2 linked regions of the Homo sapiens genome follow. The protein of the gene in region 1 purifies or fractionates together with the protein of each later gene. This does not show direct contact. Each region holds a gene or a part of one and is shown in the gene's direction. Other genes may lie near its edges. The genes, in order: NXPH1 and CSPG4.

Region 1 (16,071 bases):
ATTAAATCTTTTTAAAAAATATATTTTATTTTTAATTAACAAATAATAATTATATATATGTTTAGAGTACAACATGACTTTATGATATAGTTGGCCCTCCATAGCCATGGGTTTTGCATCTGTGGATTCAACCAAAACAGAATTGAAAATATTTGGAAAAAAATTAACAATACAACAATATAAAATAATACATAGTTTTATTGTAACAATACAACAATAAGAAATAATACATTGTATTAGGTATTGTAAGTAGAGATGATTTGAAGTATGCAGGAAAATGTGCATGGGTTATACGCAAACACTATACCTTTTTAGATAAGCGACCTGAGCTCCCATGGACTCTGTGGAGAGGTGGTCCTAGAACTAATTCCCTGTGGATACCAAAGGACAATTGTGTATGTATACATCATGCAATGATTGAATCAAACTAATTAATGTATCCATGTTATCAAATCTTGATGGGTGGGATAAACAGGAGACTTTGACAAACTTTAATGTCTGCCACAAGGGGTTCAAATGTCATTCTGTGAGATGGAGTTTTAAAATTCCAATTTATCACCGTCTAGGATAAGGTTTCTCAAAGTGTATTCTTCTGACGACCTTCATCGGATCACCTGGATGCTTGCTAAAATGCCTATTTTAAAGATCAAAGCCCAGACTAGTAAATCCTAATCTAAAGTAGGGCCTGATAATGTGCATTTTACTTCACCCTCCAGGTGGAAATTAAGCAAACTAAGGTTTGGGAATTTCTGTCTTAGGGTATCTTAGATAGTTTCTAGCTCTAGGTTTGCTTGGGGATGGGAGAGAGGAAAGGAGGTAAGGTGGGAAAGGCTGTAGGTAGGGATGTAAACATTTTACCCTAGATTCAACCAGAGAAGCTTTGAATTTCTCTATTTTACCTACCATGTTTTTGAGTGAGAATTCTCTTGAATAAATAATTTCTTGGAAAAAATTAATGAATACATGAAAAGTAACCCTGTTCTAGACATGGGAAGATAAGAGGAGATTTTCTGTGTGTGTGCCGAGGAGTAACAGGGCAAATATGTTGTGTAAGCAAAAATCTATGGGTAGTATAAGGAACTGATCCACCCATCAAGTAAACATCTATTGGGCATCTACTGTGCAGTAGGCATCACACTAAGTGTTGGAGGTACAAAGATGGATAAGACCTTTGTACCACTACAGTCCTTACCACTATAGTGCTCATAGAAGTGAGATTAGTGAGAACTGGAAAACTAGTTGGGAACTGGAAAACCAGTTATAAGGTGTCTGTCCACATGTGAGATGATGAAGCCTCGTCCACGGTGCAAGGAGGTGGATGCAAGAGATATTCCGAAGGAAGGCTTGATGAGACAATGTGCCTGACTGGTCTATGAGATGAACACAAAAATAACCAGATTAATTCTGAGGTGTAAAGCTACATAGAAAGTTTGGGTGCCACAAATGAAGTCATGGGAGCTGTGAATAGGAAGATGTGTGTTGGGGGTGGGGGGTGGAGTATAGTATTGGGGGTATTGTCTAGTTTACCATTGAACATTTTGTATCAAAGAATGGCGGGCATTTGAGTGAAGATTCCGTCTGGCAGATAGAGATATTAGCCTGTAGTTTCAAACCAAAGGGGTGGGCTGGAGGGCAAATTGTTAGCCTGGGAGTGGTTAGTAGGAACAACCAGCACAGGAGACAAAAGGAAACTGTCATAGGTGTAGAAAAGAGACCTGGAAAGAGTGGTTTTATTAAATAGTTACTGGTAAGGTTAATTCAATAGCCCAGGGCTCCAAGGCCTAGTGTTGTTTTTCTCCGGGGATGGCTAACTCCATTTCCCAGGTCCAGAGTTGGTGGTCGTTATGATAATGGTATGCACAGTGCTTTCTGTAACTCTTCTCCCTCTATCTCCTTTCCCTGTTTCATCTGGTCCTGAAGGTAGAGTGATAAGGTGAGGTCTGGTTGTAACAAACTGTTGGGTAAGATACTAATAAGTGGTGAAGCAACTGAACTGTGAGATAGGATTTGGGGTGTACCTGTGCAGAGTGAGCTAGAATTTGGGGACATTGGGGTCTTTTTGGTATCACCACATACTTGGCTCTGGACATGAGGGGGTTAATGAATCTGTCCTGAGTAACTCATTCAGCGCAAATTTTCCATTCAGTTTCTGATTCTGAGCAGTCTCTGAGGATGTTTGCGGTGAAGGAGCTTGTGCCTTCTGGCCAAAATTTCCCACTCTAGTACTGTTCCTTTTGCTCATTTCACTTGGCTGATGTTTGCCTGAAAACTTCCTCCAACTACGCACTCTCTGAGAACTTCCTAGATGAGGACTTGCTGCTGCAGAGGCTCTGATATGCTCTCCTGCTGTGGGGTACACGAGGCTGTTTTTCGGACACTGAGCTTTCTGAGCATGATTGAACATTCAGCTCAATCTAGTTCAAGGTAAGGCTGGGGGTGCAAAACTGAATGTTGCTGTCCAGTAGAGAAGGGACATGTATAAACAGCATGGTGCAAATAGTAAGAATACTTTTTAGTACACAAGTCCCTGAGAAAAGTGGAGAGGATGAGAGGTGATCTTTGAGCAGAGGTTGTAGGAAGATGAGGAGTTTACCTAGAGATTGAATTGAGAGGCGTCAAAGCAAAGGAAAGAAGGTGCAGAGGCTCCAAGTTGAGACATATGGTTGTGTGTTAGAAGCTGTAAGGATAGGTAACTGATGAATGTGAAGCATGTAGTTGAAGAGGGGCCAGATGGAAGGAAAAAAAATGGAGTGGACAGAGGCCAGCTCACAGGGGGTCTCCTGTGCTGAGCTAGGGAGCTGGACTTGATTCTGTAAGCAGTGGAGAGTTTATGAGGAGATTTAAACAAGTGTCTGATGTGGGAACATTTTGGTTTTAGCTCCATCATTCAGGTAACAGTGAGGAGGATATATTTATGGAGACAGAAGCTGAAATGAGGGGAGATCAGTGAAAAGACTATTTCCACAGCCCAGATGACTAATGATATGAGCCTGGGTTATGAGCAGGAGCAGGAGCAGGAGCAGAGAAGAGAGGAGATAAGAGATAATTAGAAATAAAATTGAGATGTGTTGGTAATTTTATGTTTGATGTGGAGGACCAAAAAGAAGGCATAAGAAAATCTGGTACTTAAGTTTTCCAGTATGTTAGTGGGATCAGTTAGTCAGCTTTGCCTGTGATAATGCTGCAAAACAACACCCAAATCTCAACAGTTAAAGAGTAAACATTTGTTTCTCACTTTTGGATCTGCAGAACTACAGGTCAGCTTGGTGGCTATGCTCCAGATCCAGATCAGGCTCTGGTCTTCATGTGCTTTCTCATTTTAGGTCTCAGGCTGAAGGACACAGCTTCTACATGGTGCATGCTGTTCTCCTGGTGGCTGAAGGAGCAAGTGGAAACATGCTATGCCTCTTAAAGACTCTGATTATGATGGAAAAGAACAAGTAAGTAAGACAGGAAAGAAAGAAAGAGAGAGAAAGGAAGGAAGGAAGGAAAGAAGGAAGGAAGGAAGAAAGAAAGAAAGAAAGAAAAAGAAAAGAAAATAAAAAAAGAAAAAAAAGAAAGGCTTTGCATATATGGGGAGGTATACTTCTCCATTTCACCATGAGATCTTTTGGCAAAGGGCATGAGCTTAGTCCCATTACAAGTGGAGAACTCCACAGTGTGTGACACCAACTAACAGGATATATGTGTAATGTAATGACATAATTTCTTCTGTTTTAGGCATATTAATTTTAGGTTCCTCTAGCACATCTAAGTGGACATGATGGCAATTGAATATTCAGACAAAGAAAAACATCAGAAATGGACTTTATGAACTTGGTGGTCACTAGATGTTAATATATAATAAAAACATGGAACTAGACAGGATTGTCTAGTAGGAGTGAAAAGAAAGTTATTGATGGAACCCTGAGGAGCACCAATGTTTAATGTAGGAAGATTAGCACACAGATAATCTGAAAAGGAATGGTTAGTGGGTTATTTAAAATACATGGAGAGAATAGTGGCACTGAAACTAAAATAGTGGAGACAGTTACTAGAGAGAGGGGTATACATTAACGATCCAGTGATTCTCAGATTTTCAAGTCAGCCTTCGTGGAGATGAGTGTGAATGAGATCTTCTCATCTAACCCGGGAAGTTTATTTTTAAAACTAAATTGCTGATTGATGCTCATGGACTCACTAGGGATACAGTGGAATGATATAAATAAAACACAGGGTATGGTTCCTGGCATTTGCCTGGCACTTGGTAATTGGTAGCCATTACCCTGTTGAAAGCTATGGAGCTTTGAGAAATTACCATCTACTTAATACAAAATTTCATGTTAGACTATTTTGCTTTGAACTTTATCAAAAGCATTTTATTATTGAAACTAAAAGAAGCAGAAAAATGTAATATTATGTGATTTTTATAGCATGACCCCTGAAGTTAATTATGGTGAAATTGTAATATAGTTGTTTTCATTAATTTGATATTAAAAAGGGAGATTGAAAGATTTGTTGCATCCCTGTGATATCTCCTATTTAAAAGGTGTCTAATCCAAAACACTGTTATCACTATGACACTATGATATTTGGGTTGAAGCAGTTCTTTGTTCCCTGCCTGTATAAGTCATCTTGTTTTAGAGTGATGTATTCATATTGTCAAATCAGGATAAAAGCTGGACAAACATGTATGTTTCAAAATATCTAGGTACTTTAGATTATGGAGATGAACTATGCATTTACAGACTCATTTTCAGCTTCTGATAACCAAAGAGCTTGTAGCCTTTGTCCTTAACAATTTCTTCCATCCCTGCGTGGTTGAGAGTCCCAGTGTTCTTTCTGGCTGAAAGCAGATACTGTATTTTGCTTTGTTAACAGAACATTGGTTATCAAGTTCTCTGTCTCTAATGATTCTGTTTTAGGGAACTGTCAATTAATAATCTCTGGAGGAATCATCATAAAGAATTTCTGTAATGAGATTATAATGCAAAGGTTTGTTTAGTCACAATATTTTTTAAAATTTTAATTATGATTTTCGGGCGATGACCCCAATCTTTCCATCTTTTACATTCAACTGCCTTTTAAATGCTGGCTTCCTTCAATTTCTCTTATTATGTTCATCCTCTTTTTAAAGTTTTTGAGCATAACTAAAACTACCCTACCTTTGAGAACCCTCTGTCTTCACCTAGTAGAATAAATGAAATGTGGATACAAAGGCTGAGCATATAAATTACCTTTAAAAAAGAAAATGCCTTCTACATAAAGCTTTTTGATTCCCTTTAGTTTTTTTTTATTCTAGAGCTTGACGGCTATTTTTCCTCTCTAGTCCAGTGACCTTGTTATTAAAGCATTATTGTAAAGGTAATTTAGCACACATGCCTCATAGTTATTAACCGAGTTCTACCACATTCAAATACCAAATATTCCAGGCTGGTAAAAATCACTATGCAAATAATCCTTCCTTCCACTAGCAAAATATGTTGGGGGAGTGGAGAGGCCAGGGGCTTTTTTAGTAGTCCTGAGTGACATTTAAGAATTCTGCTAAAGGCCAGGCGCGTTGGCTCATGCCTGTAATCCCAGCACACTGGGAGGCCAAGAGGGGCAGATCACGAGATCAGGAGACTGAGACCATCCTGGCTAATATGGTGAAACCCCGTCTCTATTAAAAATACAAAAAATTAGCCAGGCGTGGCGGCGGGCTCCTGTAGTCCCAGTTACTCGGGAGGCTGAGGCAGGAGAACGGCATGAACCTGGAAGGCGGAGCTTGCAGTGAGCCCAGATCGCGCCACTGCACTCCAGCCTGGGCGACAGAGCGAGACTCCGTCTCAAAAAAAAAAAAAAAAAAAAAAAAAAGAATTCTGCAAAAGTAGTGGAAATAGCTTTGGATCTTTTCTAACCGATATTCATAAGTATAATAAGGATGCCACTTTGAGTGTAGATTCTCATAAATCAGTGACATTAAAAACATGTACAGAACAATTTACATGAAAAAGTAATATGATGAATTCAATACAGTCAACCTCTGACCTAGAAGAAAGGTTATGAGGGTGGAGCAGGGAAGAAATGCAGAAAAAATCTTTGGCTCAAACCTATAAACACACTTGACTAAAAAATCTTTGAAATGCACCAAAAAAGAATGTTTTTTCAAACTGTTAATATCTTTGAAAATCATAATGCAGTACACAATTGTTTTTTGGGAAGCAGGTAAATTTTTTAAACCTGCATTTAATCATAAAAGGTAAAATAAAGGAACTTTAGAATTAGAAATCATTTAAAACATCATGTAACCTTACTTCTGCATTATACAGAGGAGGGTACCGAGGCCAGGTGAATATTTAGGCACTTGTCCAGGACTACACAACATGCAAATGCCAGGTTATACTGAATTAAGGGCAGGAGGGTGATACAGTCTTTGTAAGTTTTCTATCACTATTAGGAAAAAAAATAGGTACAATGCAGTACTATGTACAAAGTGATGTAATTTGGCCTGAAGCTTAAGCAAGACCACAGCTGGATGCTTTGTAACAATAGTTCTCTGTTTTTACTTGGATTTTGGGTAGAATATGATGATATTAAGGTGTTTAAGACAGGTTCATTTTAGGACAAAATTTTGTAGAACTCAGCCTCTCTCTTTATGTCTCTCTTCTCTCCAGCCCCAAGATAATTCAAACCTCTCCCTTCCCTCTCCCCTGCCAAAAAAGAGAATCATACAAATGAACCAAACCAAAATAGATAATTACATTTAACAGAACTATCAGTATATGTCAGAAGATTCTAGTTTAATTTCTTCTGGTTTTAACTTTCAGGAAAGTTAATTTCACTATTTTCTTTTGATGCAGCCCATTTTAACCCTTTAAAAATATATTTCTTAGAGACAAAGATCTATATTATTTCTCGTACTGTTCATTTCAGGTTGGACCAGGTAGACATGGGGAAAAGCAGATGCAGAGGGTTGTGTTTTACAGTGGTTATCATTCATACTAAGTTTATATCTGTATTAAGTTGCATTGCACACAAAGTTTGGAAACAGTATTTCTGAAAGAATTTTCAGCATGAGTAAAGTCAGTAAAAATTGGTACAAACACTATACTTCTTAAGGTAATCACACTTTTGTTCTCACTCAATGAAGCTGACTGTTCATGTATTCTAAGAGTGCATTTTAGAGTAGGATACTACTTGAAACAGAAGAATGTAAGAAAATCATGCTTTTATTGCTCCATTGTTCTTTATAAAGCAAATGATAGGAAAAAAGGAGGGTGAATGAACCATTCTTGTCCACTTCTCCCCCAATATTATATTATTAAAACTGGAGTGGTTTAGCAGAAACGATACATTTTTCTGTGTTACTTGGTGGCTCGGTATCCTTTTCTGGTTGAGTATTATAGGAGATGAAGACCCCTGTGAAATATGAAAAATGACAATCCGCCACTGTTTTATATCACAGGCCAAGTATCTCATAGGATCCAGCGAAGGTTGAATGTCTGGGCAGAAGATCTCAGGTCATTAACAGAAAAAGCTCTTTGGCATCCTGTGTCATAGAACAAAGTGTCAAACCTGTTCCCATTACTAGGTGCCTGTGGTGCTTTTCTTAAATAATCAGTCCCATTCAGACAGACATTTTAAGGTCTCTGATCATCTTTCTATTTCACAAGCAGTATTTTTTTAAGGCTAAATGGCACTAGAAGCAGAATGTTTTTAAAGTAAGGTTTAGAAAAGAACTTGGTATATTCCAAAGCTAGCCGGATTCTTTCTCATTTTCCCAAAGGTCAGACAGAAGTTCAGCTCTGACAGCATTGTAGCTGGGAATCCAGATAGAGGCAGGCAACATTTGCTCCAGCTCTACACTCCAGTCTGGGAGGCCTGGGAGCTCCTGTACAAATAGGAATCAATTTTAGGATAGCCTTATGAATCCTAGAGGATGGAATTAGACAAAGCTTTTTTTGCCCCTGCTTTGACCATTTGGCCTCAGATACGGGTGCCCCAATACTTTAATTTTTCTTCTTTAAAGTTTAAAGTTTTTAAGAAAATGAAATAGCTGGTAAGTGAAAATAGTCAAGAAAACATTGTAATTATGCTATATGTACATGTGCGTTTTTTCTGAAGTGGATTTTCAGAGACACAGTTAGAAGGTGTGCTTCACTGCTTTATTCTGCATATGCCCCAATGAATTCCAGGAGGTCACAGCAGCAGAGTACAACTTTTAAGATTAGAAGAGCTTGCTCTTTAAAGAGTTATTTTTAGCTGGAAGGGAGAGTGTAGACCTCAAAGTGCTGGTAGGTATGTTCTACAGTGGGGATCTAATTTGGAGGTCTTTGGAGATCTGATTCCAGGGGAAGGTCTCAGTGGGGCTCCTCTTGCCTCTGCTGCAGGACTGGGTGGCTCTGCTGATTGTCACTGCCTTGTTTGAGGGGTGGTCTCCATCATCCAGGGGAATTCAGCCTGGGACCTATTGTCTAGAGTGTACATTGTATCTAGGCCCAGACCTGCCAGAGTGTCCACAGCCACACTTGAGGAAAGGACATTCCAGACTCATTAAATATCACAATTCGATTTTGATGTCACTAACTCAGGTTCCTGAGATAAATTTCCATACAATTCCTACAGATTGATATGGATATGTGCATCACCCCAGGAGAGGCTCTGGTGAAGGGCAGGCTTGGAGATGCAATGGGCAAGGTTGGGGAAGAGATACCCTCTTCCGGGTTCCGATTTGTGCCCTGAATTTGGGCAAGCTCAAGGAGCACTGGCAACCCCACCAGCACCAGAAGAAGCTGGTCCTGGCTGTCTCCCGAGACTGGTGAAACTGCTCTGGTGGTGGTGCACTGGAAGGGTGGAGGAAAAAAAACAAAAAACAAAACAGGGTTTGAGGGGGAATGGCAGGGACACGGTAGAGGCACAGAGATACAGAGACCTAGAGTCAGAAATCCTGAGTGAGACACACAGAAAGGCAGAAAAAGGCAGAAAGATGCTGAGGGACAGAGACGCAGACCACAAGAATGACAGAAGAAGGAGACAGAGAGAGAGAGGGAGTGAGAAAGATACTGAGAAATAGGGACAGTAAGGGAGAGACTGAGAAAGACAGAGACAGCCAGAGTCGGAGCACAGAGGCCGAGTCTGGGAGACGCTGGTTGAGTGGGAGGTGTCAGTAGCGAGGGAGGTGGTGACGGCTCGAAGCATCCCCCGTCCTCCTCCTCCCCCTTCACGCTCAGCCCAGCCGGCGGCGAGGAGTCCAGAGGCCAAGGTCGCCCAGTCCTCTCGGCTGTCTCGAGCTGAATGGCTGGCAGTCTGCGGCTCCCCCGCCTCCGGCCCGGCAGCCACAGGTCGGAGGCGCCCGGCGTCGGCGCTCGAGGCCGGCAGGGGCGCCCTGCACCCTCCCGCGCCCTTCCCCGCCCTACGCGACTCCCGGCTGCTCTTCCCGCCACTCCCCTGGGCTTTGCGATCTTCCCTACGCCCCCCGGGAAGGGGGCGCTGCGGCCACCGAAGACACCGCGGGAGCCACTTGTCCCTGTGGGCCCAGCCCGCGAGAGCCTGAGAGCCGGATCTGTTTACACAGGGTACTAATTAGTCTTTGAGGAATCATTCACCCACGTGCCAAAGTAATTGTCCGTGTCAGGAAGGTAGGCGTGCCAAGCCGCGGCTCTGCGGAGAAACCACGACCACCGCGGCCGCCGGAAACCCAAAGCGCTCCAGAGCGTCCCCGGGTGGCCGGGCAGCACCAGGGACAGCGCCCGGGACTCCACTGGGGACCGGCTCCTGGGCTTCCCAGCGTCGCGGGTAGAGGTACAGCTGCTCCGTGTGCCGCAGGCTCCAGATTCTCGCCACCCCACCCCTCCCTCAGAAACTCGGACTGCTCTCGTCTGCCGTGTGGTTCTCTTTTCTTCCGAAAGGCCAGTGTCTTATCTCTCCACTTCAAGTCCAGAGGACTTGCTCAGTCTCCTCCCCTTAAGTCATTTCCACCATCCTCAGGCAGCTGTGGGAAGCCGAGAGTCCTGGACTGTTCGTCCGGGTGCCAGCGCTGGCAGTCCCAGTCCGTCCGGTGCAGCAGCCCGGCGCATTCCCCTCTCTCCCTCCCTCTTGCTCTCCCTCCCTTTCTGTCTTCCTCTCTTTCCTCCTCTACTGCTCCCTCCCTCTCTTGCCTCTTAAGTTTCCTGCACCGTGAATCCAACTGTGCCAAGCCTTGGCTCCCGCGAACCAATCCTGAGCGCGACCCGGGCACTGGGACGGCGACTCCGCCAAAGCTGGACGAGGCAGCCGGACCCGTCTGCGCTCGAGCATGGAGACGGAGCGCCTGGGAGGGCACGTCCGGGGCGCTGGAGACGCCAGGCCCGAGTAGCTTCTCCATGGAGCCTGCCCAGAGCGGTCCCTTCTCGCAGGATTCGCCCCAAGTCCTGTGCGGTACGTACCCTTTGCCTCCGCTGTTCCCGGAGGGTACACCTGGGAGCGGGGTGGTGGGCACGAGGAAGGGACGGCAGGGAGGGGCGCTGGTTAGGAAAGAGAACAAGCCTGGCAGGTGACCCTCACAGCTCGGAGGAGGCTTCTTCTCTAGAAGTTAGCGACCGGCTGTACCCTTTGGCTCGAAAAAAGTAGTGCTAGAGATGTGACTGTGAGCATTCGTGGGTATCTCTGTGTGCGCCAGGGGTTCGAATGGGTAAACTGATCCCTGCTTTCCTGTATGCAAATTGCATTCTCTTTCCCCACCCCCACTTCACCGAACGTGTTGAGGTACCTAGCACCTAATCGCGGTCAGTTCTACCTACCTCTTCCTCTCACCGCGCCCCCCTCGCTCAATCTCTCTCTCTCCCTTTATCTTTCCCCTCTATCTCTCTCTGCTGGTGTGTACGTGTGTGAGCACTGCCAGGGCTGGCGAAGAACCAGCCGCCGCCTTTAGTCCGAGCCGCCGGGCCACCCAACACAAGGGCAGGTCTCGCTGCCGGAGAAGCCTGGGCTCCGAACCAGCCTGCACGCGGCTCAGTGTGCTCCGCCGCCTGGGAACTCGCACCCGAGGAGCGCAGGGGGCAAGGAGCCCCTCACCCTCCCTCTCGTCCGCCCGCCCGCCTCCCCAGCTGCGGACCGCGCGCTTGCTGGTCTCAGGCGCTGGATTTACTCGCTTTTCAATTTTTCGTACCCTCCCTCCCTTTTTTTTTTGGTCCCCCACTCCCCGCTACGACCCCCTTTCCCCGCTTGATTGTCAAGCCTAACCTTGCCCGCGTAGTCATGGGATGTCTAATTTTATTTGCATCTAGGCTGCTGAGAGCGCTCCTTGCTCTGTAAAGTGGATGTCAGGTGGATCTATGTTTCTGAAGGAACAAAGACTCAAAGAAGGCACCGCCAAGGAAGTTTGAGACGCGGGAGAATGCAGGCTGCGTGCTGGTACGTGCTTTTCCTCCTGCAGCCCACCGTCTACTTGGTAAGTCTTGGAAGGTTCGGGGCTTTCGCATTTTTACCCCGGCCGGGAGGCAAGGAAACTGGGGACACGCGGGAGAAGGGTTACGCCGCCAGTTCAGTGAGAGCAGCTTCCTAGCAGCTGTGTTGGAGCAACTTTGGCAAGCTGGTCTCTGGATTCCTGCGGATTTTCCGGGGTTCCCACCCCATTTTCTGCTCCAATCCCCCAGTCTCCTGCGCGTGATTCTTGAAAGGGGCTAGGGCGCCCCAGACACCCTAAACCCAAGGAGGTAGTGAGATGGGGTGCTTTATGTGATAGAGGGCCAACGAGAAGAAGTGGAAGGCAGGAACTCTCAGTAGCTCATGCACAGAGTTTAAACGAAGGGAAGTGGGGGTGTAGTTGGGTGGTGGAAAGAACAAATCTGCCCAGGTCTGTGAGTTTAAAAGTGAATCTACCCACCCACTTCCCCGATTTGGAGATGAGACACATAAAGAAGCGCAGTTAACTTTCTTTGACTTGTAAGGGTTCCGACAGGATAAGTTTAACTATCAGGGGTACTGCAAGCAATCGGAGTTAGGACAGAGATACTCCAGCAAACATGTCCACCTTCCTCTCGTCTCGACCTCCCCTTTTCATCAAATAACTAAATCCCATCTCCAGTGACTAGTCCATTATTAGGGAATGGTAGGCCTTGTCGCCAGGGAGAGAATTCTAAACAAAGCCGCGGTCCTTGTCCTTCAGTAGCAGAGTTTTCCGGGGGGCTGGACTTTGTACACTGCTGGAACTCGGCTCCTGGTTGAAGAGCTTTGTTGTGGTGAATTGGTAGCTGTTTGTGCCATGTTGAGACAAGGAGAATGAGATATTTCAGGTCTGGCTTCTGGGGTGGGAATGGGGGAATGGGGGTAAGGGACACTTGTGCCCTGCTGGTGAAGTTGTGTTCAGTGTCCCGACCCCCATAGCCCATCCTGGGCTGCGGGAGTGCACCGAGGGCTCGCTATGTTCTGTCTAGGGGTGAGGTGCGCTAAAGCAGCCCGAACTCTCTGATGGGCTACACCTCTGATTGGAGGTGATACTGGCGCTCCTCAATCCCAAGAGCCTTAGATAGAACCCATAAGCCTGAAAGAATTGCCATCCCTACAATTGACAGCGTTTCTCGGCCGTTGCCCTGGTGCATGTGGCTGCAAAGCTGCGAGTTGTGTGAATTCTGTGTATGTGAGTGACACGTATATATATGTGTGTGTGAATGTGTATTTAACCGATTTCAGCTTCAATCCAAGAACCCTCAATGTTGCCTGTCTTTGCCCCTTTATCGCCTGACCGTAGCAGCCGCGGACGCCAGAGGGCGCTGCGCATCAGCGTCCTCGCCCACAGGACACCTTGGGGTAAACAGGTGAAAGCCAGGGCAGCCAATCCAAAAGAACAGCCTTTCTGACTCTGTCACCGAAGTCTGTGCCTTTACCCGCTGGAACGCAGGCGGAATGCAAAAAGTGTCCTTCCCATTTCCCATCTTCAATCATTTTCACCCCCACCTGTGTTCAGTAAGCCCACTGACATTGAGAGACCATGGATGGAGGGCAGAAAGTTTGGCCAGAAGAAATATAGAATTTTTTTATTGAGAGATGGGGGGAGGGAATGCAAAGTGAAAGCGACGGGGGCGGGGGGGAGGTAATTTTAAGGATTCCCTTGACCATCGTAACCCGCTTGCCCTTTTCCTCTGCATACCTTTACGCCTGACCTGAACTTGAGGACTGTTCTTACGTCCTTGGGCTGTGCTCACACACACGGCAAGGGCTTGTGGCTATGGTGCAGTTTATTGCTTGGAGCAAGTATTTCGATAGTCTGGAAAATAATCTATCAAAAGCAGAAGTGAAATCAATACTTTGTGTTAAATTTTAAATGTGTTTGTTGGCAGTTAAACCGTTTTCCACTCATTACAACAACAGTGCTGGATTTATTCTAATGCGCTGCGTTCTCAACAACAAGCGCATTAATTCTCCTTTAATTGTAAACTGGGAGCATTTGAAAACCATTCAGTGTGCAAATTATGCTGATTCAATTACCGTTTAGTTACAGACTTCATTACCTGAATGCCTTTTGGCAATACAGAGAAAGGAGACAATTTTTCCAATTTCACTCAAAACAATACGAAATGTGAACAATAAAATAGAGAAGGCTATTTAGAAGTCCGTTCTTTTTTCTCCAATCTAAAGTACTTTTGTGTGTCGGGGACTAGAAACCACATGCACCACAAAAACTACAGCTGATGGCTGTGACCCAAGGCAGTATTTCCAGGGATTGTAATCCCATGGATATTTGCCAGCAGAATTCCGAGCTGTTTTCCTGAAGGAGCAAAAAGCTGACTTCTACCATGGAAATGAATTTAAAAGGGTGAATTGGGCAGTCATTTCGGGATGGTTTTAGGCAAATAAAGAAGTAGAGAGCCTTGATTAAAACTCTAGGGCAATGAACCGATCAAGAAGTGATCAAGGCTTCTTTCTTCATCTATTTCATTAAATACCAGATACAGTTAACTGGATTGATCATTTGTTTGTAGCTGCACATTGGAAGATCTTATCCCTTTGTAAGAACCTGCACTGGATGCATACAGATTGTCAGGAGCTGCTTTAAGTTACATTCAAAGAAGGCAAGAGTGGCAAAACCATTATTTTAATTTTCTCTTGAACTGACATAAGCCAGGGAAGAATTTGATGGATAATTTTTGTCTTTGTGAGCTCACACCACTAGTTAAGTGCCTGCATCACTCTGTTTATGCCTTACCTCTTAGCTGATATCTCAGTGCACCTTGACCTTTAAGCCCATGGTATCCTAGTTATGTTTCCCAGGGAGTAATCACCACATTAAGTCCATGAAACAAGACTTGTCTAGTTATCTCCTAAAGAAATATTTAGGCTTCTGTTTAAAGTGAATACCTTAAATACCCCCAAATTTGAGAATAACTTCTTATGAAAACTCTGCAGTAGGTCAATGCCCCACACCAAGCCACAGTTTCCTACCTGTATTTGGGTGAATGTTTGCAAAGTATGTTTCTGGGCCCGGGATTCTTTGAATGCTTTAGGTTGAGGATTTTTGTGTTTTTTGAGAGACAAGTCTGTCCTAGTTCAAAATAGAAGCTTATTTTAGTACTTTAATGGGAAACTAATTAGATATGTGCCCACAGAGTTACCTTCTGAAGCATGTTAGCTGGAATACTCAAAATCCACCACAGGACAAGCTCCAGCCATAAATGCATGGGGGTGGGAAACTAACTTTTAAAAATAAAGGTAAATAAAATTTCAGACTATTGAATGTTATGTATTGCAGATTTAAAAGCCTGAATTCAATAGGAGAGAAGTCTATGGTTAACAACGCTTATTAAAAATAATAAAAAAGTTTTGCAATCTTTATTCTCTTATTATTCCTGGACCAATTCCAGGATATTTTCAGTATGATACAATGGGATGGCAGGATGATAGCATTTTAACTTTATTGAAGCATATATTGAATCAGCTAGAAAAATATGGTTCCTTGCTCTGAAGAGTGGGGGTTCTAACTTGAATCAGCCTCATTGGATCAAGTAGAAGGATAGGCCAGGACACCAGGAAAGCATCTCCCACAGGGTGTGGCATTCTGTTTGGGGGCTCACCTGTGGTAACTCTCAGTTAGAGAGGTGAGTCTAATGAGCACTTTCTGAGCATGCTAATGAAAAAGCTACTCAGAAATTGAATCCAATGCATCCGACAAGGCATTGTATAAAGTTACTGTGACTAGTCACCCATCCACAGCTCTATTCTAATGAGAAGGGGTCCCACCATTTCTGCTAGGAATTAAATTGCTAATAATCAAGTTGCTTTTTAAATCAAAATAGGCATGAATTAAAAATCCTTTCTAAACTTGTGCCACATTATGAGCCATCTATTCTCTCAAATTTGGGATATCCTTAAAATGTGAATTCTACACCAATTGTTTAATAGAGTTTGGAGAGTAATTAATGTATCTATGGGACCACTACCTCTGCACTGTTAAAAGCTAGATCATTTGGGTGAAATCCACTCATTATGAAGATGGCTGTTAAGGTATATTGGAGCTGGGGGAAAAGCAGAGGGAGAGAGACCAGCAATGTCTTTTCTTTGGACTAGGTATGTGTGCTTCTCATTCTTTAAAAATTAAGCCAGCTGCACACTGAAAATTCTAATCAATTTGAGCTTATTACTGAAAATAAACAAAATAAAATAAATTTCCTGACAGTGGCTATTAAGTGTTCCCTATTAAGGCTAGTTCTTGGAGGCAGTACTAAAAGTTTCTCATTCCACTGCATTTCCTGACTCTTCTACTACAGACCAGCCTTTTAGATACATACGGGATTCAGACTAGATTTTTGGAAGGCCCTCTACCCCAGAAGCACAGCCTTAGAACTCATCAGTTTTAAGATGTATTCCTGAGCTCTGGGGGACACAGAAGTTGCTACTATTCTAGGCATTTCCCTGAAATGTTCAACTTTCCATTGACCAAGAAAGCAGCTCGCCCAAGTGTGTGGGAAGCACTTGGGTGGGACACTTTTCTGCCCCATTTCCAGAAGGATTATCTTGGTCTGAGGCCTTCTAGTGACAGCTTTAGAGAAGCTGACTTTAGTATTCGGAGAGAACCAGGATTGCTCCAACTTTCTCAGCGGTATTTTTTCGGAAAGCCATTAAATTCGTGGCTCCTCT
Region 2 (15,399 bases), on another chromosome or scaffold:
CCTACTTCGCGGCTCAGAGCTCCCCCAGCTCTGATCCTCAGTTTCCTCCTCTGCAAAATGGGGACGCTGCCACATGCCTCACGGGGTTGTTGGAAGGAGAGAAGTGAGATTGTGCTGAAATAGAACACAGGTGGGAAGTTTTTTTATTGGATGTTTGCAAGTATGGTAGGCAGACTTCTGAGCGGCCACGGGTGGCTCTGCTGTTCCTTCTTCTGTGGCTAAGGACCAGAACATCTGACAGAATCACTTACAAGCCCTTAAGGGCAGGCATCAGGGCGGAAGCTGTTAAGTTTCCCACCTTCACCCAGCAAGTGAAGGCCATGGCTTGGCTCCCCAAACTCCTGCACAAGGCTGTTCCACGCCCAGCAGGACAGTGCAGGGAAGGCCCTGGTGAACTTCGCTCAGGCAGAGGTAAGGGCCCCACTCTGCAGGTGGAAGTTGAGGCCCAGACGTGGGATGGAACTTCTCCATGGTTGCAAAAGTAGTTCTGGTGGAACAGAAAGGGCATGGCTTTACAAAGCCCACATGGCAGGGCTTTGAACCCCAGCTTCTGGGGTGCATCCTCCCCGGTCAGCAGGAGCCACTGAAGTTTCCATAAAGGGCTGACTTGGGCTGTCTCTGGCATGGGGTGCCTGGGGCGGGGGTGGGGGCGGGGCCTTGGTGGTCTAGGATGTGCCCGTAGCGGGTGGCCTGGTGGTGCGGAAGCCGCCAAAGAGTGGGACACAGTGCTCTGGAACCACAGGCCAGGACGGCTGTGTGGCAGCACAGCCACCAGGTGGTGCCATCTACCTGTGTTTGCTCCAGAAGCCTAGTGCTGGGGTCCTGCCCCGCAACATTATGGCCCCTCCTGCCAGGGCTGGGCCTGAGGGCTCCCTGGGGCCGGGGGAGGAAGCCCAGGAATGCCAGAAGGCTCTGTTTTCCGGGCATGTGAGTCCCACTGCAGCTCTGCCCGCAAGTAATTGACCCAGCAAGACTGGTACCAGGACCTCAGGAACAGGCACCTGCTCTGCTTGCAAGTGGGAGGCCTGAAAAAGGGGTCCCCTTTGCCCAACATAAGGAGGGCCCCTAACTGCTCTGGAAGCACCTGGGCCCATCCCACGCTGATTCTGTGCTGCAGAACAGTGCCAACCATCAGCCCCCCACTCTCTGCGCCACGCACCCCTCCCTCAGCTGGAAGGAGGGCCCATTTCTAAAATCACCATTCCCACCTGTGCCCGGCCCCGGCCAGGCACACACGGAGGCTCTGAAAGGAGACCCCTGTCCCACCAGTGAGACAGATTAGGGAGCACTGTTGGTCAGCGCTGGGGGTTTCTGGGAGTGAGAACTTGGTGAGGGTAAGAGCTGGGGCCTTCCTGGGTAGGGGACATAAGCTGGCCTTGAGGGACACACAGGACTAGGGCAGATGGAGAGCAGGGAGGCTGGGCCTGGAGGGTGACCTTCCCTGGGGCCTTCCCTGGGGTGACAGGGAAGGTGAATGCGGGAGGCCCTTTGTGCAGGGGAGCCAGAGTGGCGCCAGCCTCGATGCCACCCGAGGGGCTGAGCCGCAGCAGGACTGGAGCCCTGGTGGCAGCCCAGGGCCGGGGAGGAAGGGGTGGGTGAGTGCGGCAAGGCAGAACCTTCACAGGCCTGTGTTCCCAGATGTGGGAGGGGGCCACTGCGCCCATCCCTGCGGAGGCTCTGAGGAGCACGGACGGCGACTCTGGGTCTGAGGATCTGGTCTACACCATCGAGCAGCCCAGCAACGGGCGGGTAGTGCTGCGGGGGGCGCCGGGCACTGAGGTGCGCAGCTTCACGCAGGCCCAGCTGGACGGCGGGCTCGTGCTGTTCTCACACAGAGGTGGGTGCTGAGGGCCGGGCCTCGGGTTCCTGCTGCCCACGGGGGTGCCCTGAGATGGGGAGCCGGCTCGGGCCAGCTGGACCCAATGCCCCTGTCCCCAGGAACCCTGGATGGAGGCTTCCGCTTCCGCCTCTCTGACGGCGAGCACACTTCCCCCGGACACTTCTTCCGAGTGACGGCCCAGAAGCAAGTGCTCCTCTCGCTGAAGGGCAGCCAGACACTGACTGTCTGCCCAGGTGGGTGTGCTGATCATGGGCATTCCTGGGTGCCAGGAGCTGGGGCGGAGCTGAGGGTGGCATGCCAGGGTCACGCTGCCTCTTTGCAAACACAGGCCTGGACCTGGCTCCCAGTCAAAATCTGATATCCCCTTTTGCCTCTGGCAGGGTCCGTCCAGCCACTCAGCAGTCAGACCCTCAGGGCCAGCTCCAGCGCAGGCACTGACCCCCAGCTCCTGCTCTACCGTGTGGTGCGGGGCCCCCAGCTAGGCCGGCTGTTCCACGCCCAGCAGGACAGCACAGGGGAGGCCCTGGTGAACTTCACTCAGGCAGAGGTAAGGGCCCAACTTTGCAGCCACCACTCAGATGCCCCCAGCCTCAGGTGGCCGCTGTGCCATGGACATCATGTGGACATGGATGCCAGCTCCAGCATCACTGGCAGCAGACGTTCCCGGGCCTGCCATTGTCCAGGCGCTAGTGTCCTGTCCTCCAGGAGCCGCCAGGCTGGCAGGGCAAGTTCATGTTCCCAGAAGGAGGGAGAAGGATGCAGAAAGTCGGGGATACAGGGCCCTAGAGCAGGGCTGGGGTCTTGGGGTATAGCTTCCAGAAGGAAGCTACAGCCGGACCCGAGGGTCTGGAGAGGGGGCACCATGTGGGGGCACTAGTGGTACCCCAGTAGCTGATGAGGGGCAGTGCTTGGTGGGGGATGGAGTTGGACGTGAAGCAGCGGCTGGGCCTGTGGGCAGAGGTGTGAGCCTGGGGCTCAGGTCAAGTGCCAGCCAGAGGCAGAGTGGATCCTAGGGGCAGATGAGCTGATGAAAGGCAGCTGAGTCAGCCAAGAGGGTGAAGCTGCTGTTCATCCGTCCTGGTGGCTTCAGAGACCACCAGGAAGAATTAGAGCTCTCAGCCATGGGTAGCAGCAGACTCTCTGTGATAACTGTGCCATGGGGGCCAGCCCAGTCATCACTTAAATGAACACCACTCGCTGAAGACAGAACAGGAGTTGTTCCATAGCAGGGCAGAGCGGGGCAGACTCTTCCATGGGCCATCCCAGGCAGGCGGCACATGTGATGCTCCCGCCAGGAGGCTGCATGGGCATCTGGACCCAGCACATGATGACAGTGAATTCTGGGTAGGGAGTGGTCTTGTGGGGCGCAGAGCTGACTCTCACTCAGGAGCCACAGCATATGGTACTGCCCCAAGTACCTCCTGAGGGGTCCCCCTGCCAGCCTTCAAAAAATGGCAGAGCCCACCCCAGCCCCCTTTCCTAGCTCGGCAGGGACTCCTGAGCCTGGCACTCTCCCTCCTGAGAGGTGCAGATGGTATTCAGCAAGTGCAAAGGCAAAGTCCCTGCCCAGCAAGTGGCTCAGATTTGGGCATCTGGAAGGAGGTGGCTTTGACAGGTGGAATGAAGTTTCTTGGGCTTCTCACATCAACACCTCCCAGTCCCAGGTTCTGTATTTCCCTGGCTCCCCACTCCTGCTATGGCCCCCTCCCCACAATGAGATATTTGTCAGGCTGGTGTCTGCAGCTGCTGCGTACCCTCAGTTGCTGGGAGCCTTTGTCAAGAATGCCCAGGAATGGAGAGGGCACGGGACCAGGCCATCAGCAACCCTCTTGCACTTTATAGTCCCACGTTACTCAGAGCTTCCCCGTGCCCCAGAAATATGAAGGACTAGACTGAATGGACACCAGGGGGTCAGGCTGGCAGTGCCACCCAGGAAAGCAGGGAAGAGGCTACGTGGGCTACCCTGGCCCACTCTGGGAGGAGGGCAGGACTGGGTATTGTCTTGACAGCAGCCCTGTCCCACAACACTAAACTGGGCAGGGAAGGGGTCAGGTGTCCCCATTTTTCAGATAAGGAAACAGGCTCGTGGAGGGCAGGTAACTTTATTCAGAGCACATGGCGAGTAAGAGGCAAAACTTCTGCCTGCGAGTCCAGGATTTCCTTCACTGGAGGACACTGCTTGCTCCCCAGAGCTCAAGACCCTGTTTTTTGTCTCACTCCCACCCACAGAGCTCCCGTACCCAGGCATCAGCTCCCACTCCCACTCCTGGGGGCTCCATTTCCTTCCTGCCCACCATTCAGCCTGGGCCAGAAGTTGCCACTGGCAACTCTAGTCCTGGGCCAGATCTGGCCCACAGACGTGTTTATTTGGCCTACAAAAAGCAGCTAATACTTTGAAGTTAATTGTCAACATATAACCTTTGGGAAATTAAACAAAAAACTTGATTCCCATTTTCTTAAAAGGCCTGTGTTCCCTCTTACAGCGAAAGCAGGGGAGCAGCCACTTCCTTTAGAACAGGTGCTAGCCCCTATTCAGATAGCTCGGCTCTCCTTCAGACTGGGCTCAGCTGCCCTTTAGCCCAGGCTCTGCTCCCCTTAGACCAGGCCCTGCCCCCACCTCAGACTGGGCCCTGCCTCCCCTTAGCCCGGCCCTGCTCTCCCTTAGCCCAGGCCCTGCCCCATCTTAGACGGGGCCCTGCTCCCCTTACTCCGGCCCCTGCTCCCCCTTACTCCGGGTTCTGCTCCTAGAGTCTTCACAGGTTAAGACCCTGTTAAGTTTCCATGTTACTATTGGGCAAGTCCTGTTTTTCTCTGAGAAGAAAATAGTTCCCAGTGTTTCCTAAAAGGGGAAAATAAGGCCGGGCGCGGTGGCTCACAGCTGTAATCCCAGCACTTTGGGAGGCCAAGGCGGGTGGATCACGAGGTCAAGAGATCGAAACTATCCTGGCTAACATGGTGAAACCCCATCTCTACTAAAATACAAAAAATGAGCTGGGCGTGGTGGCACGCATTTATAGTCCCAGCTACTCAGGAGGCTGAGGCAGGGGAATCGCTTGAACCCGGGAGGTGGAGGTGGAGGTTGCAGTGAGCCAAGATCGTGCCACTGCATTCCAGCCTGGGCGACAGAGCAAGACTCCGTCTCAAAAAAAAGGGTGGGTGGGGAGCAAAAGATAGGCCAAAAGAACACATTGTGATTGGAGGTGGAGAAAACCGTTTTTCTTCCTGGAGCGAAGAATATTCTTTGGTGTTGAACTGCAGGCAGCACCATAGAACAGCAGGTGTGTCTGGAGTGGAGGTGAGGGGAGTTGAGGTCGCAGGGGTGATATGGTCACAGCCAGGCCTTAGTGGTCAGATGGGGAGACACTGCACTATGTGAGCCAAAGAGCCCCATAATCTTCCCTTTCAAAAGGCTCACTCTGGCTGCTGTGTTAGGAACAAAATGTAATGGGCGGGGGACTGCAGCTGGGACACAGGAAGCTGTTACGATAATCCAGGTGAGAGATGCGGTGGTTTGAGGGAAAGAGAGGATGCAAGGGTGGTTCCAAGGGTGTGGCCTGAGCCCTTGAAAACGGAGCTATAGTCTCTGAAGCAGGATGACTGTAGGAGGTGGGGGCCGATCGGGAGTGCAGCCGGGGCAGGTTGAGTTTGAGGTGTCTATTAGATATCGGCAGAGGTAGCTGGAAACATGAGTCTGGGGTTCAGGGGAGAGCAGGCTAGGCTGGAGCTACAAATAAGGGGGTCTCAGCACAGCTGGCATTTGAGGCCAGGAGACTGAATAAGGACTCATGGAGAGTGCCTGTAGACAGAAAAGAGCCTGGAGACCTGGCCATAAGATGTTGGGGAGAAGAGGAGGACCAGCCAGGAGAGTCTGTGAGGTAGGAGGAACCCCAGAGTGAAGTATCCCAGAGCCTGTGGCTCTCTTGGAGGAAGGGTTGCTTGGCGGCACCAGTGCCACTGAGCAGTTAAGAGGAGGCTGAGAGCCGACCGCTGGATCCAACAACACGGAGGCCTCTGGTGCCCTTGGCAAAAGGAGATGTGGCGATGGGGGAGCAAAATCCTGGGTAGAGAGACCCAAGAATGCCTGGGGGAGAGCGTGGACTATGCTTTTTGAAGTTTTGCTGCAAAGAGAAGCAAAGGGGCAGGGGTGAAGCTGGTGGAAAATGTGAAGTCAAGAATAGTTTTTTCTGGCCAGGTGCAGTGCCTCCTGCCTGTAATCCTAGCACTCTGGGAGGCCGAGGCAAGTGGACCGCTTGAGCCCAGAAGTTCAAGACCAGCCTGGGCAACATAGTGAGACCCTGTCTCAACAAACAATAAAAAAAAATAGCTGGGTGTGGTGGCATGTGCCTGCAGTCCCCGCTACTTGGGAAGCTGAGGTGGGAGGATCGCTTGAGCCCTGGAGGTCGAGGCTGCAGTGAGCCATGATCACGCCACTGCAGTCCAGTCTGGGCAACAGAGCAAGACCCTGTCTCAAAATAATAATAATAATAATTAATTAAATAGCTTTAATGTAAGTGAGACAAAAGAATAGCATAGTTGCATAATGAAGGGAATGATGCATCTGGGGGGAACTGACACCATAGGAGAAAGCCAAGAGACAGTAGAAGTGGTGTCTTCAGAAGGCAAGAGGGGATAGGATCCTGTGCACAAGAGGAAGTACTCGCTTTAGAGAGCAGCACAGACAGATCATTGCATTCCCCAGAGGTCAGAGAAATTAGGCGATTTCCCCAGGGTGGCAGAGTTGGGGTTTGAGCCCAGGCTCCGGCTCCAGAGCCCAGCTCTGCACTGCATTGCCTGATGTGACCCAGTGAGTTAGTGAGGGAGACAGCGGGTCACACGCACAGACCTGGGCACACCCAGGAGAGCCCAGAGTGGGGCCTGAGGAGACAAAAGTGCTCAGTGTCTGGACAACACAGGCTGGACCTGCCTCTCACCCCACGATGGTGTCTCCCCTAGGTCTACGCTGGGAATATTCTGTATGAGCATGAGATGCCCCCCGAGCCCTTTTGGGAGGCCCATGATACCCTAGAGCTCCAGCTGTCCTCGCCGCCTGCCCGGGACGTGGCCGCCACCCTTGCTGTGGCTGTGTCTTTTGAGGCTGCCTGTCCCCAGCGCCCCAGCCACCTCTGGAAGAACAAAGGTGAACAGCATGATAAGCTGGCAAGATTGTGGGGAGGGACAATGGGAGAGGCCCAGGAGGAGGGGACACGAGGCCAGGGTCAGCAGCTCCTGTCTCAGCCCCCAGGACCTGGGAAGTCACAGGGAGGGTGAGTGGGGAAGCTTTGACATCACAGCGGGGACATAGTCCTTATCCTCCTGGGAACCCTGAGCCCCACCCTGGAGGACCTGGCTTGATGGTTGGGGGGAGGCACATCCTTGCCCTGAGGCACCCCCAGCTGAGGGTCCATCACTCTCCCCTCAGTGGGCTGGACCCTCATAGCCTATGTCCCACCCCCAGGTCTCTGGGTCCCCGAGGGCCAGCGGGCCAGGATCACCGTGGCTGCTCTGGATGCCTCCAATCTCTTGGCCAGCGTTCCATCACCCCAGCGCTCAGAGCATGATGTGCTCTTCCAGGTCACACAGTTCCCCAGCCGGGGCCAGCTGTTGGTGTCCGAGGAGCCCCTCCATGCTGGGCAGCCCCACTTCCTGCAGTCCCAGCTGGCTGCAGGGCAGCTAGTGTATGCCCACGGCGGTGGGGGCACCCAGCAGGATGGCTTCCACTTTCGTGCCCACCTCCAGGGGCCAGCAGGGGCCTCCGTGGCTGGACCCCAAACCTCAGAGGCCTTTGCCATCACGGTGAGGGATGTAAATGAGCGGCCCCCTCAGCCACAGGCCTCTGTCCCACTCCGGCTCACCCGAGGCTCTCGTGCCCCCATCTCCCGGGCCCAGCTGAGTGTGGTGGACCCAGACTCAGCTCCTGGGGAGATTGAGTACGAGGTCCAGCGGGCACCCCACAACGGCTTCCTCAGCCTGGTGGGTGGTGGCCTGGGGCCCGTGACCCGCTTCACGCAAGCCGATGTGGATTCAGGGCGGCTGGCCTTCGTGGCCAACGGGAGCAGCGTGGCAGGCATCTTCCAGCTGAGCATGTCTGATGGGGCCAGCCCACCCCTGCCCATGTCCCTGGCTGTGGACATCCTACCATCCGCCATCGAGGTGCAGCTGCGGGCACCCCTGGAGGTGCCCCAAGCTTTGGGGCGCTCCTCACTGAGCCAGCAGCAGCTCCGGGTGGTTTCAGATCGGGAGGAGCCAGAGGCAGCATACCGCCTCATCCAGGGACCCCAGTATGGGCATCTCCTGGTGGGCGGGCGGCCCACCTCGGCCTTCAGCCAATTCCAGATAGACCAGGGCGAGGTGGTCTTTGCCTTCACCAACTTCTCCTCCTCTCATGACCACTTCAGAGTCCTGGCACTGGCTAGGGGTGTCAATGCATCAGCCGTAGTGAACGTCACTGTGAGGGCTCTGCTGCATGTGTGGGCAGGTGGGCCATGGCCCCAGGGTGCCACCCTGCGCCTGGACCCCACCGTCCTAGATGCTGGCGAGCTGGCCAACCGCACAGGCAGTGTGCCGCGCTTCCGCCTCCTGGAGGGACCCCGGCATGGCCGCGTGGTCCGCGTGCCCCGAGCCAGGACGGAGCCCGGGGGCAGCCAGCTGGTGGAGCAGTTCACTCAGCAGGACCTTGAGGACGGGAGGCTGGGGCTGGAGGTGGGCAGGCCAGAGGGGAGGGCCCCCGGCCCCGCAGGTGACAGTCTCACTCTGGAGCTGTGGGCACAGGGCGTCCCGCCTGCTGTGGCCTCCCTGGACTTTGCCACTGAGCCTTACAATGCTGCCCGGCCCTACAGCGTGGCCCTGCTCAGTGTCCCCGAGGCCGCCCGGACGGAAGCAGGGAAGCCAGAGAGCAGCACCCCCACAGGCGAGCCAGGCCCCATGGCATCCAGCCCTGAGCCCGCTGTGGCCAAGGGAGGCTTCCTGAGCTTCCTTGAGGCCAACATGTTCAGCGTCATCATCCCCATGTGCCTGGTACTTCTGCTCCTGGCGCTCATCCTGCCCCTGCTCTTCTACCTCCGAAAACGCAACAAGACGGGCAAGCATGACGTCCAGGTCCTGACTGCCAAGCCCCGCAACGGCCTGGCTGGTGACACCGAGACCTTTCGCAAGGTGGAGCCAGGCCAGGCCATCCCGCTCACAGCTGTGCCTGGCCAGGGGCCCCCTCCAGGAGGCCAGCCTGACCCAGAGCTGCTGCAGTTCTGCCGGACACCCAACCCTGCCCTTAAGAATGGCCAGTACTGGGTGTGAGGCCTGGCCTGGGCCCAGATGCTGATCGGGCCAGGGACAGGCTTGCCCATGTCCCGGGCCCCATTGCTTCCATGCCTGGTGCTGTCTGAGTATCCCCAGAGCAAGAGAGACCTGGAGACACCAGGGGTGGAGGGTCCTGGGAGATAGTCCCAGGGGTCCGGGACAGAGTGGAGTCAAGAGCTGGAACCTCCCTCAGCTCACTCCGAGCCTGGAGAACTGCAGGGGCCAAGGTGGAGGCAGGCTTAAGTTCAGTCCTCCTGCCCTGGAGCTGGTTTGGGCTGTCAAAACCAGGGTAACCTCCTACATGGGTCATGACTCTGGGTCCTGGGTCTGTGACCTTGGGTAAGTCGCGCCTGACCCAGGCTGCTAAGAGGGCAAGGAGAAGGAAGTACCCTGGGGAGGGAAGGGACAGAGGAAGCTATTCCTGGCTTTTCCACTCCAACCCAGGCCACCCTTTGTCTCTGCCCCAGAGTTGAGAAAAAAACTTCCTCCCCTGGTTTTTTAGGGAGATGGTATCCCCTGGAGTAGAGGGCAAGAGGAGAGAGCGCCTCCAGTCTAGAAGGCATAAGCCAATAGGATAATATATTCAGGGTGCAGGGTGGGTAGGTTGCTCTGGGGATGGGTTTATTTAAGGGAGATTGCAAGGAAGCTATTTAACATGGTGCTGAGCTAGCCAGGACTGATGGAGCCCCTGGGGGTGTGGGATGGAGGAGGGTCTGCAGCCAGTTCATTCCCAGGGCCCCATCTTGATGGGCCAAGGGCTAAACATGCATGTGTCAGTGGCTTTGGAGCAGGTTAGGCTGGGGCTCATCGAGGGTCTCAGGCCGAGGCCACTGCGGTGCCAGTGCCCCCCTGAGGACTAGGGCAGGCAGCTGGGGGCACTTGGTTCCATGGAGCCTGGATAAACAGTGCTTTGGAGGCTCTGGACAGCTGTGTGGTGTTTGTGTCTTAACTATGCACTGGGCCCTTGTCTGCGTCGGCTTGCATACAGAGGGCCCCTGGGGTCGGCCCTCCGGCCTGGCCTCAGCCAGTGGGATGGACAGGGCCAGGCAGGCCTCTGAACTTCCACCTCCTGGGGCCTCCCAGACCTCCTGTGCCCCCACCTGTGTGGGCAGGTGGGCCAGTCTTCGGGTGATGGGACCAAACCCCTTCAGTTCAGTAGAGAAAGGCTAGGTCCTCTACAAAGAGCTGCAAGACAAAAATTAAAATAAATGCTCCCCACCCTAGATTTATTAGCCTGAGTTTCGACCTCCATACCCCTGTCCTTCCCCAGCCACCTCTCAAGGGGTTGCAGCAGCAAAGTGAAGGGAGTGGGGGGACTTGGGGATCCCAAGGCTGGGACATGGTACCAAGGGGGAGGGGGAGGAGAACCACCACAGGTGCCTCCTAGAAACTTTTACAAGGAAGGCTTCTGCTGGTGTCCACCCTCCCAACAGGAGGACCAAGTGTGCTGCTTCTCAAAGCCAGAGGAAGCAGCAAGGATTCAGAAAAGCCAGGCATCCCCGCACGTGGCCTGAGAGGCCAGCATTGGGTTACAGAGGGGTTCTGAGGCCGCGGCATCTCCAGAAGGCCCTCTCTGAGTTACTGAGTCACCACCCTCTAGACCTCTCTTGAGGGTGTCGCAGGGTTGGGGGCAATGGAGACAGATTCTGGGTCCCAGGGGATATGCCTGGCCCTGACAGTAGACTGAAGAGAGGAAGAGAAATGTGAGAGGCCTCTGAGTGCAGCCAGGGTCAGTGGGTGGGAAGCCCTGGCCAGCCTCTGGCAGCTGACCTGCATCTGGGGACCAGAGTCACCTCTTCCCTGCATCCCAACATCTGAAACATTTGAACCAGGAATGAGCAAGAGAAGTCTCCTCCCCACCCTGCCCCTGGACCGCCCCTCCTATGACGCCTCTCGCATCTCAGTGTCCAGCCTCCTAGGTCCTCCTCCACTCTGAGAGGCTTCGGGCAGGAGGCCAGGTACATCCTGCTGTTAGGGCCCCCAGAGGACCCAGGGGAGACTAAGAGTCAGGGAGGGGAAGAGGGCTGTCACACAGCAAGGCGCTTCTTGCCACACTGAAAAGCAGGACTCCCCAGGGAGGGTGACCAGGGCCCCAGAGATCCCTCTGCACCCTGAGCTCACCGTGCACAGGGCTCCGCGTGAGCCTGCTCCGTTCCTTCTACAAGCCTGGTCTCTCTGGCGCCCCAGGCCAGCCTGAGGCAGGGGCCTGGCCAAGGGTGTCTCTACACCACATCCCCTCCCAGGAGCTCAGGCTGGAGCCTCAGGGCCCTGATATCTGGAGCAAGTCTCTACCCAGGGTGACCAGTTTCCCTGGAAGTGTAAGCTGAGAAGAGGGTGAGAGACCCAGCAGGCAGGATCTGGCCTGGTCTCCGATTTCCCCCAGAGGACTGAGGACACACTCTGTTCACATAGCCTGGCCCGGCCTGCCCTGCCCCCAGGGAGCTGGCACCAGCTGACACCGTTCCAGCTCCTCTGAGCCCATGCAGGACAGTGGGCTGGCACCCAGGGCACTGTGCCAGCAGCTCTGCTAGGACCTGGGAGAGGGTCTTTCATGGGCACACCAGAGCTGAGAACCCAACCTAAACGTGGGACCTTGGTTTATGTAAATCCCTTTCCCCAGGGCTTAAGGGGCTTGTCTCCACTTTACAAAGTAACTCACCATCCCCCTCCTTTAAGGAGCCAGTTCCTCCCAGGCGCTGGAGATAACAGCCAACCCATGTGCAAGTGTTCAGGAATGTCTGGGAGCTCCTGACCCTCTCCACACAAACAAACATACACAAATCCATAATGTGCCTTTGTGCACGCCATTGTGTATATGAACACAGGCTCATGCATGACCTTCAGACACACAACACAGAGATAAATACCTACCTACCTAAGACACAAACGCATACGCGGGGGCACACACAAATTTCAGAAGTATATGCTCCTTACCTGGGGCCCCCTGCAGTCCCAGCTAGCCTAGTCGGGCAAAGGAGTCAGGATTTTCTGCCCATTAAGGCACTCAAGCTGACATCAGCAGAATTGCAAAGTGAGCCCACTGGTGGGGGAAGGGGACAGGGTAGGAGTTGCCAGAGGGGCCCAGATCCCCAGGACCCCAGCTTAGAAACCCTGCCCACCACCCTAAGTGGCTTAGTCTCTCAGGTGCTAGAGAAGGGGCTCCCTCTGAGCCCTTCCCTGCATCCTAGAAGCCAGTCCTTTAAGCAGATTGCTCTGGCAGCCAGGGAGCCCACTGAGCTTGCACACTCATCCCCCAATAGGAAGCCAGAGAAGTGCTTCTGCCACCCCACACCGACCTCCCCTGACCAATGAGAACTGCCAGGGCTGCTGGCATCTTCCTCCAGGCCCTGAAGATTCCAGATCTCAAAGAGGTGGAGGTTCTTCCTGGGCAGAACTCCAGACCTCTCTGGTTGGATCTCCCATTCCTGGCCGTAAGATGTCGGGAAGCCCTGGTAAATAGTTGGGACCAAGGTAGAGAACCAGACCCGCTGGGCTCCTCTACACAGCTCCACTCCGACCCTAGGGCCTCTCATAGGTAACGCCATCCCTGTGGAGTTACCGCTAAGATTGGTCAGGCAATAGCCAGAGCATTTTGTGCCAAAAATGCAGTGGAAGATGTAGATAGGAATCCAATCAGCCCTTCCTGAAGAGCCGCAGGCATACCATTGAATAACTACCTAACCCTGACATGTGCCTTCACCCAGCGGTGTGAGCAGGCCAGTGAGGGGAAGCGCAGAGTGGGAGGGCTCACTGCCTCTGTCTGCTTCCTCCTCTCCTTAGAGAAGGCTGGTCCTTTCCATGGAAGGCCCAGCCACATGGCAGCTAAAGCTGGGCATGTTCAGCTACATCCTGGTTACATTTCTATTCTCAGTGTAATGGATTACAGTATTTAACTGATGGCTACTAGCCTCACAAAGGGCATCAGCTCCTTGGAGGGCCCTCTGTGGCCACCAAGATAATTGGTGGGTTGTGTTGTGTTCCTTCATGTTCCAGATGTCCTGTGAGCCCCTAGAGACAGAAGCAACCCTGGATTAAATCGCCCAGTTGCCAAGAAGGACTTTTTTACCCAAACACAGCCTCAGCAGGGGACTAGGATAGTTCCCCTGCCTGCCAACCTGAGATCCGTGCTCTGTTAGTCCAGAGCCTGGAGCTAATCCCAAGGCTTCCTTCTGATGCCTCGTGAGATTGCAAAGGACCCAAGAGACACAGTCTCTGGGTCTTGCAGACTCAAATGCAATGAGTTGCCTAAGTCTTTGCTGCTCAAAGTGGAGTCCATGAACTGGCAGCACCGGCATTACCTGGGAGCTTGTTGGAAATGAAGACTCTCAGGCCCTACCCCAGAGTAGCTGAATCAGACTGTGTTTTAACAAGGTCCCTGGTGATTAGAAGACACATGACACAGTGTAAGTCCTGACTGAAGTCTTCCCCTCACCCTTTAATTAGGGGACACTAAAATGGGAGAGGCAGGGCCCAGACCAAGATCATACAGTGAGCTGGTGGCTGAGCTGGAAGAGGGGTCAGACCTCGAGCCCTGTCCCAGGGTTTTCTATTCCACTTCAGCTCTCACTCTTGCAAAGACCCCCACATCCGCTGCAGGTTTGGAGGGATGGGTTCTGACATGGGTTCCTTCCCCAGGGGACTCCAGTGAGGACAAGAGAGGGAAGCAGAGGAGGGTAAGACCAGCAGCCAGATCTGATCCAATGGGGAGGCTCTGCAGGAAACAGCCTACTCCCATCCTTACCTCCCAAAGATGGGGCCCTGGGAAGTACAGTAGCCCCACCACCCCACCTTCTGTAATCTGGCTGCTCCTTCCCTTCCTGTCCCTTCCCTGCCCATCTGGTCTCACCTGTCAGGGGAAGAGATGAAGGGAAGTGTCCGGCCAATGTCACCAGTCAGTGCCTGTGTCATGCACAGGGCCTCCCCCATGGAGGAGCAGGGCAGCCAGCAGGAGAGGGGAAAGAAGCCACCTGTCACACTGCCAGCCAGGCCTGGTCAGAAGGAGGGCATGGGACACCCAGAGCTCTCTGTCCCGCAGAGGTGCCCCACTGTCTCTCCTGTCCACAGAAGGAATGCTGGTCTATGGCCCCCAGCCTGTGGGCTATCCTGGTGCTGGGAGTGCCTTTGGGACCCCCACCAACTCCACTCCCCTCCTGGGTTGTTGAGCCAAAGCCCAGGTGAAGGCCCCAGACCCCCACACCCTGCAGTAGGCATCGTTCAATTCTATACACTCCACTAAGGCAGTGTGTAGCCTGGCCTAGCCACTGCTGTGCCCATGCTGGGTACACAGTAGATGTCCAGCAAACATCTACTGCCAGAACACAGCACCCCCTTCCCTCAGACATGCCCTCAAGCCAAGAGGCCTCTGACCACCCATCCTACCCAGACCTCTCCTGGGTTCCCACTCTGGCTCCCCTGCTCCTCTCACCCCCAGGGTTGCTGGCTGGGCTCTCGATGGCTGCTCTGGCCCCAGATCTCTGCTAGGGCCCAGGCTGACCTGACCCCAGGCCCTGAGTTTCTGTCGGGTGGATTTAATCTTTCCCTCCCAGATGCTTCAGAGCTCACTGCACACCTCCTTCAGACTCGCCCGTGGCTCCCTCCCACCCAGACACCTGAGGTCATTCTGCCTGAACGTGTTCTGCCTATAGGGTCTATCTCAGAACGCTATGGGCAGAACACGTTCACCAAATCACACGTGGGGGCTCACCACAGAAAGAAGCAAAGTTAAGTGGGGCAGGAGGAGGAGATGACCCCAAACCCCCTTACACTCAGCCTCCCCCTGCCCAACAGCCCTCCTGAGAACATCCAGGCTCATGGGGCGCTGTGCCAGCCGGGCTAACCACTCACAGGGCTCACTTGATCACAACCTTCGGGGGCAAGGGGCAGAGCAGAGCCACGGATGCCCTCACCTCTCCCCCACCCAGACGACCGTGCATTCAATCAGGGGGCCCAGAGAAGAGGTGTGACTCAACCATAGTCACAAAGCAATTCACCGGCAGAGCTAGGCCTCCTAGAGGCTTGAAACACTTCCAGATGCCAAAGATATGTCTCTCAGCAGTGGGATGCCCAACACCTGGAGAGGCATCGGGGCCAGGCAATGGGCCAGGGATGCCAGACATGCTGGCCAGGGCAGAGACCTTCAAGAACCAGACTGCGGCAGGGGAGCCTTGTTGAGTCTTGTTGGGGAAGGTGGCGCCTGTGCTGGGGTGACCTAAAGAGCTGCTGGGCAGGTGGGCGAGGCTGGCAGAGCCTGAGCGCTCCTGGAAGTC

Evidence for each region.
Region 2: the proteins of NXPH1 (region 1) and CSPG4 purify together in Homo sapiens (co-immunoprecipitation; 2 studies listed by BioGRID and IntAct, with this or other methods). This does not show direct contact.

What each region holds. Positions count from the first base shown.
Region 1 is NC_000007.14:8,424,379-8,440,449, forward strand, and holds the start of NXPH1 (neurexophilin-1 precursor), read left to right. Parts: upstream 1-9,230; 5' UTR 9,231-10,377; intron 10,378-11,225; 5' UTR 11,226-11,335; coding exon 11,336-11,389; intron 11,390-16,071. UniProt on the Homo sapiens protein: May be signaling molecules that resemble neuropeptides and that act by binding to alpha-neurexins and possibly other receptors.
Region 2 is NC_000015.10:75,669,281-75,684,679, reverse strand, and holds the end of CSPG4 (chondroitin sulfate proteoglycan 4 precursor), read left to right. Parts: intron 1-1,638; coding exon 1,639-1,837; intron 1,838-1,938; coding exon 1,939-2,073; intron 2,074-2,220; coding exon 2,221-2,387; intron 2,388-6,793; coding exon 6,794-6,977; intron 6,978-7,295; coding exon 7,296-9,130; 3' UTR 9,131-10,358; downstream 10,359-15,399. UniProt on the Homo sapiens protein: Proteoglycan playing a role in cell proliferation and migration which stimulates endothelial cells motility during microvascular morphogenesis. May also inhibit neurite outgrowth and growth cone collapse during axon regeneration.